Homo sapiens: one gene and its partner. The protein of the gene in region 1 purifies or fractionates together with the protein of each later gene. This does not show direct contact. Each region holds a gene or a part of one and is shown on either strand. Other genes may lie near its edges. The genes, in order: RFWD3 and COA1.

The links.
Region 2: the proteins of RFWD3 (region 1) and COA1 purify together in Homo sapiens (affinity purification with mass spectrometry, with the first as the bait; one large-scale study listed by BioGRID). This does not show direct contact.

What each region holds. Positions count from the first base shown.
Region 1 is NC_000016.10:74,660,174-74,663,990, forward strand, and holds part of RFWD3 (E3 ubiquitin-protein ligase RFWD3), read right to left. Parts: exon of another isoform or gene 1,783-3,817; intron 1,281-1,782; exon of another isoform or gene 1,279-1,280; 5' UTR 1,277-1,278; coding exon 759-1,276; intron 1-758. UniProt on the Homo sapiens protein: E3 ubiquitin-protein ligase required for the repair of DNA interstrand cross-links (ICL) in response to DNA damage. Plays a key role in RPA-mediated DNA damage signaling and repair.
Region 2 is NC_000007.14:43,642,402-43,646,218, forward strand, and holds part of COA1 (cytochrome c oxidase assembly factor 1 homolog), read right to left. Parts: intron 2,999-3,817; coding exon 2,850-2,998; exon of another isoform or gene 2,845-2,849; intron 1-2,844. UniProt on the Homo sapiens protein: Component of the MITRAC (mitochondrial translation regulation assembly intermediate of cytochrome c oxidase complex) complex, that regulates cytochrome c oxidase assembly.

The DNA of each region.
Region 1 (3,817 bases):
TCTATTCTATAGTTATGAGACCCTGAACAAAGCCCTCTCTGAGCGGAGATCGCACCACTGCGCTCCAGCCTGGGCGACAGAGTGAGACTCCATCTCAAAACAAAACAAAACCAAAAACAGACAGGTTTAATTAGTTAGGTGTGGTGGCACGCGCCTGTAATGCCAGGTACTGGGGAAGCTGAGGCAGGAGAATCGCTTGAATCTGGGAGATGGAGGTTGCAGTGAGCAAAGATTGTGCCACGGGAATCCAGCCTGGACGACAGAGTGAGACGCTGTCTCAAAAACAAAAACAAAAAACCAAAAAACGGACAGGGTATAGGCAATTGTTATTCTTCATAATAACCCTGTCAAGACTTGACAGCTAAGCCCTTCAAGAGGCAAGTTCAAACCAAGACTATGAAAGAAAATTAATTAATTGTGCCCCCAGGTGGAATGCCAGTGAATAATGAATTTGGGTGAGTAGAGACTTGCAAGTGAAGAAAGAATTTTTGGTGTACAAGACACAATCTGAACAACAGCCAATCTCTACAGAGATTGCCAACAAACTACCACCTAGTTTTCAAGGCACAACAGTTTAACTTATCCCTTCATTACTTTGTGAAGTAAGGCAAGCACTTTTATTTCCACCTATGAGGAACTGGGGGTCAGAAGTTACCTGACTTGCCAAAAGTCACACTGTCAGTCCTTGAATGGCAGAGCCTCAGTTTCATAATTTCTAGTACAGCAATGATCACAGACTTATCCATATATTTATTTACCTGGCACTGTCTGTCCTCTGAGACCCTCCGGCTCTTGCCCTCCGTGAAGCAGATACCCTCCTTCTTGTTCTCATTGGCCCTACACTGTGGTTTGAAGATGAAGGTCTCAGGAATTCCAGCATGCCATGAAGTCTCTGCAGTCCGCTGATGAAGTTGGTCATTGAATGCAACGAAGATGCTGGGATGGTGTGATTACCATCAGATCCCTGCCTATGTTGTTCTGAAGTTCTTGGATTGATGTTCTCCACAGTGTCTTCTCCCAAGACCTCCACTTCTGTCAGGTCAACAGACAGTTGCGGAGCAGGCTGGAGCAGGGGTGGTGTCGCTTGGCTGCTGATCACCTCAGCAGGAGCTGGCTGGAGGATGGATGGTACCCCCTGGCTGCTGACCACATCAGCAGGAACAGGCTGGAGGAGGGCTGGTCCCCCTTGGCTGCTGGCCATGCCAGCAGGAGCTGGCTGTTGTTCGGCATGATTTAACTGCACCTGAACATCATATTCCATTGCTTCATGAGCCATCACTAGAGAAACAGTATTTGTAAAAAGTATTAATAAAATAGATAAAACATGCTATGTAGGTGACAGAATCATATTTAATCTTTCTGATTTTATGTTTAATATCATTCTTAGCAAGACTGAGAAGCTTCAAGAGAAGATTTTAACTACTTAAGTCAGAAGTGTTTGGTAATGGACTTTCCTCTCTATAACAAGCATTTATAACCAGTTTTCCGGTTTGCCCTTAGAAAACATGAAGTCCTGTGATCATAGTAGTATCTTCCAAAATAGAAAGATCTATAAACCAAGGAGATTAAACTACTGGGTCTAAAAGTAATCTCTCAGACACTTTGCAGTTCTCTCAAGCTGAATATGGACATTCACCAAAATCAAATGCATATAATGCAGTATCTAATTTTAGCAGGCAATATTAATCTTTCACAGCATCAACAGTTACAAGGGATAAATAGAGAAAGGACATTTTTTACACTTGCAAAATTAACTGTTACTAACTCAAAATGGAAACTTACCTAATGTTTCCAAAAAGGCTGAGCAAACTTTATCCTATCCCTTTCATTATTTTTGTTTTCCATCTCTAATTCCATCATGTTAGCGTATTCAACAAATATTTATTAAGCACCTATGTTCTTTTCATGTTTCCTATCTTTAATTCCATTGTATCAGTTTGAAAACTACCACCTAGTTTTTAAACTAAAAAAAAAAATTTTTTTTTGTTATATAGATGAAGGCTTCCTATGTTGCCCAAACTGGTCTTGAATGCCTGGCCTTACCTCCTCATGCATCAGGACAACAGGACTGAGCCACTGTGCCTCCCTACCACCTAGTTTTTAAAGTACATCAGTATAACTTATCCCCTTAATTACTTTGTGAAGTAAGGCACGTGCTTTTATTTTCATCTGACTTATGAGGAAATGGGGGTTCAACTAATAGTTATTAAGCACCTGTTATGCAGACAAGACACCCTAGAGGCAAAAACAGATAAGACCCCATGTATCAGAGTTTAGATTCTAGCAAGTAAGATGTCAATAAACAAATACATGAAAAAAATTATAGATTATGATGTTTGGGGTTGAGGAGACAAAGAGGACCAACTAAGACACAATTGTGAGGGAAGTACTCTTTTAAAGAGTGAAAATTGGGCTGAGGCATGAAGGATTAAAAGCAGCTGGCTATGCAAAGAGCCAAGAAGAGTCTCAGAAGGAAATCAGTGCATAGGTCCCTGATGAGCATGGGTTTCACTGATGAACAGGACACCATTATTAAAGGGCCTATGGGCCTTGGTAAGGAGTTTCTTCTATGTTAGGAATGCACTGTAGGGGTGCAAGAGCATAAGCTAGGTGACCAGTGTAGAGGCTATTGTGGGAGTCCAGACCAGAGGTCAGAGAGACCTAGGCAAGAGTGGTAGCAGTGGAGATGAAAACAAACAGACAGCTTTAAGAATCTTCAGAATGGTCATGCTTCTTTTTTTTTTTTTTTGAGATGGAGTCTCGCTCTGTTGCCCAGGCTGGAGTGCAGTGGCGCGATCTCGGCTCACTGCAAGCTCCGCCTCCCGGGTTCACGCCATTCTCCTGCCTCAGCCTCCCGAGTAGCTGGGATTACAGGTGCCTGCCACCACGCCTGGCTAATTTTTTGTATTTTTAGTACAGCCGGGGTTTCACTGTGTTAGCCAGGATGGTCTCGATCCCCTGACCTGGTGATCTGCCAGCCTCAGCCTCCCAAAGTGCTCGGATTATAGGCATGAGCCACCGCGCCCGGCCAATACTCATGTTTCTTAAAATCATCAAAGCAGATTAAACCACCTGAGGAACAGAATGACAGAAGAGGGCTGAAGACTAAAGTCAGAGACACTACTGTTAAAAGTACAACAGAGTAAAAGAAGCCAGTTAAGGAAGATTATAAAGTAGGAGGAAACATGGGAATGTGGTGTCTTGGAAAAACAATGTTTCAAGGAAGGAACAATTGAGTGTCAAGTGCTACTGGGGGGAAGAACGGCCGCTAGATTTGGCAACATGAGGATGACAGGTGACCTAAAAAAGCAGTTTCCCTGAAGTGGTGGGGTCAGAGGCCAGACTGGTGCAGGCTGAATAAATGGAAGGAATTCTAATAAACATAGTGGACGAAGTACATATATGTATCTTTCTCTCTCCACTCCAGTCATTCCTAAAACCCACGAACATGACCCCCACAACCTGAGACATTTTTTTAAGAAAGGATAAATTAACCAGGACGACACAAATGCAAACAGGGTATGATATGCAAACCAGTTTTTTAAGGCCATAAAGGAGAAACTGATGATTGATGACTGCTTAGCAGAGCCAAAAGATAAAACTCAAAGCCTGCAAAGGGCACAGTGGTTGGGGTGAGGTGTGTTATTGAGAAGCAAGCTGATTCCCACTAAAGGGACTGTAAAAACCAGGTACCACAAAAGGCAATATTGAAAGATGGCGCTAAAAGAGAAGGGCTGGTTAAAAGCCAGTAAAGCAGTTAGCTTGACTCCTACTCAAACACCAGCCAGCTAAAACAAAACACAGAACAAAGCCCTTC
Region 2 (3,817 bases), on another chromosome or scaffold:
ATCACACCACTGTACTCCAGCCTGGGTAACAGAGCAAGGTTCCATCTCAAGAAAAAATTTTAAAAAAGAACAAATTTTCAGGGTCCCACTGTTTGAGTCAAGCTACAGCTTTTCTCTGGAAATTATAGAATTAAGCAACAGAGTATACACTGAGCATCTCTGGATGCTTTAAAAAAAAATTTAAAAAGGAAGGAGAAAGAAATGGGCAGAAGCAAGAAGGATTCTGAAGAAGAGCAAACTCTGAGGGGCCAATGTCTGAACTGTGGGCAGCTGTGCTTCCATGGGTAGATGTGACACTTTACAGGTTGGTTCCTTCACCAGCCAGACCTTGCCAAAGATTAAAGCAGGAGTTCTGGTAAAGCAAAGTGTTGGTCACTGGTGACTATCTCACACACATACTTGGGAAAAAATCCCAATGTATGACAATTACTTCATGAACAACTGAAACATCTCACCTCTGGAAAAACTGTAAAAATTGCAAATAAAGGAATTTGGGATAAGAGGGCATATGCTGTATACAGGCATCCTCACAAACCGCTGATTATAAAGAAAGGACCCTGACAGAATGTCAAAAATAGTCCACAAATTGGAAGGCGTGCACTGAGGCTCCAGGTGGCCATGATGCAGCAGACTCTGAACTCCTGTCACTGCAGAGTCACAGCATTTGGCCGCAGTAGAAGCCAGAACCTAGCACCACAACCAACATAGTCACAGCATGGCCAAGGCCCCAGGGATGTGGGGAAGCCCAGGAAGGCGCCCTCTCAGCACCACTGGGGCCAAAGTGAAAGCTGGACAGGACAAAGCTCCCACCAAAACCACCATGGCCTTACCCTACTCTCACTGGGGTTCCTGGAGCACCAGATCATGGATGCTGCATCAACCAGCCCCAGCAAAGGCGCCTTTGGCACACAATTCCTCAGTGCTACAGCTGGGCTCTGTGCTGAGAGAAACGCAACAGCCAGACCTACCCAGTGGCTTTTCCAAGTTCTCAGGATTGCTGGGGTCTAGCCAAGTGACCAAAGGCAAGGAAGCAACAGACAGGCTCCGCCACACCATGGGAGCAATCCGGTGGCCTGGCACAGAGTGAGCACTCCACACATGCCCAGCCCTTCCCTGTGCTCCTCCTCCAGGATGTCCTCTCTCACGCAGTGTCGCTGCCGTCCTTCCACTCACGTCCATGCTGGACACTGGACCATCACCTCTGACCCACCCGCTCCTGATACATGACTGTTACCAAGTTCTGTCACTTGGATGCCACGATGGCTTCACATCCGTCTTTTGCTTCTCCAGGCCACACCTCTGGTTCATGCTCTCACCACTGCACACCAGTGTGGCCACATCTCTCTCCTAAAGATGGCTCCCCGTAGCCAGTCCCTGGGCATTACCAATCTACACAAATCCACCTTCTTTTAAAACCGAATATTTTAATCAGAATACCAGAGCATGAATTGCTTTTGTAGTTAGAAAAAAGTCTCATTAGAGCTGGGTCCATTAAGAACATACTAAAAATAACAAAAAATAATGTAGGTCGGATCACCTCACTCATCCTCCAAATACTTTACGGGCTTCTGCTGCCAGAGTCAAGCACACACCTTCCAAGATGACACTGTGGCCCCTGGTGGCCGCAGCCCCTCCTACCTGCCCACACCCACCTCGCCCACCTGTGCCTCCACTGCCGTATCACACTGACAGGCGACACAGTGATGAACTTTCCCAGGCATGCTGCTCCTCAGCCGGGTGTTCCTCTCCACCTTTCAAAGTCCTCACAGCCATCTCCCAGGCCTCGAGCCACTTCCCCTAGGCCTGCACAATAGTGACAGGGTTTCCCTCACCCTGTCTTACTCAGGAATTTTCAACTGTAAACCCCCAAAAGCCTTCTGCACCTCTATTCCCCACATAGCTTAGAATCATTTCTCAAACCAGAGCATATACTCAAAATATGTTTGTTAAACAGAACAAATGTGTTTTACATGCAAGTGAGTGTGATCAAGTACAAAAAGATAAGTTATAGCTAAAAAAATGGGTTGGTATTCTGTGGAAGCAATGTAAATAAATACACTTTAAAAATCAAAGTTTAAAGAGTTGGGTACATTTGAATGAGCACTGACTGGATATAGATGCATTTCTCTTTTTTTTTTAATTTTACAGACAATTTCACTCTGTCACCCAGGATGGAGTGCAGTGACATGATCATAACTCATTGCAGCCTCCAACTCCTGGGTTCAAGCGATCCTCCTGCTTCAGCCTCCTGGGTAGCTGGGATTATAGGTGTGCACTATCACGCCTGGCTAAATTATAGATAGATAGATTAGATAGATAGATAGATAGATAGATAGATAGATAGATAGATAGATAGATAGGCAGGCAGGCAGGCAGGCAGGCAGGCAGGCAGAGAGACAGAGAGAGAGAGAGAGAGAGAGAGAGAGAGAGAGACAGGGTCTTGCTGTGTTGCCCAGGCTGGTTTCAAACCCCAGGGCTCAAGCAATCCTCTTACCTCAGCCTCCCAAAGTGCTGAGAGCTATCAAAGCCAACATGGTAGCAAACCACCACTGGTCATTTCTCTACTACCTTCAATTCAAGATGGCGACATCAGCATACCCACTGCATTCCCTGCCACATCAATTCCCCAGAATGGAAGAAAAGTATACAGAAATATCTATAATATAAAATATATTTTATATAAACATTAAAATCCATAATAGAAAAACTTTTTTTAAAGGTGCCAAACCTAGCTTTACTTAGTGGATTTTCCCATCCCAAATCCTTAACTCCAGGACTTTCCAGGAGACAGTAGACTCTCCTCTCCTTCAGCAGGCACCAGCCTGCGGTTCGCAGGGAAAGCACATTACCTTGGCATCAACAATGTCCACGAAGTTTTCCCTGTCGATGAGCTTGAGATAATGGATGTTGAGAGGAGGGCCCAGAGCTTCCTGTGCCTCGGGATGGCTCTGCAGCTGCTCCACTGCCAACTTGTAATATAAAGCCCTGGAATGAAACTCTAAGGACGAAAGACACACTTATTTTCTTTATTGAACTTGGTCAGGTAGAATCTACTACACAGAAAATTAAATAATCCAACTGACGTACAGGGTAGAAACAGAAACGTGAAATCTGTGGATGGACGAATAATTAAGGCCATCTACTCTAAATTGTCCATTTTACAGACTCAAAAACCAAAGCACAGGCAGGCAGTGTTTTGCAGGGATGTGCAGATGACCTTGGGCCTTGACCTCATGCAGACCCTTTCTGCTTCACCTCATTTCTACCCTCACTCATTGCCTTATTTTGACACCTAAGAGGTTTGGTCAGCTCTTCTCTAAGTTTCCTCTCAAGTCTCTAAGTTTGCTCTAAAGTCCTACTATGATTCCATGACTTGTTCAAAGTGACACAGCTGGTCCATGGCAAAGCCGAGGCCAGAATCCATGATACCTGACTTCTCAACACTGCCTGTTCCACTAAGTTGAGACATAAAATAGAAAGACCACAACATTAACAACAAAACCCTCAGGCCTAGAAACAGGATATGAAAATGTTCATTCATCAAGATTTAAGCCAACATTTCAACTCAAACTGCTCTCAGTCTCAGGAATCCTTCTGAGCCCACAGGCTACCTGGGAACTCCGGGAAGCACCTCCCTGAAGCTGTAAGTTCTAATAATCAGCTGCCCAAAGGAGGGAGCAGAGGCAGGCTTCCCAAGCAGGGTGTTCAGTTTGGCCGCAGAAAGTGCTTCTCTTCTGAAGGTCCCATCACACTAATGAAGGGAAAGGTGACCTGACCCTGGAGAGGCCAAGGGAATCCCCCTCCTGGGCTGCTTCCC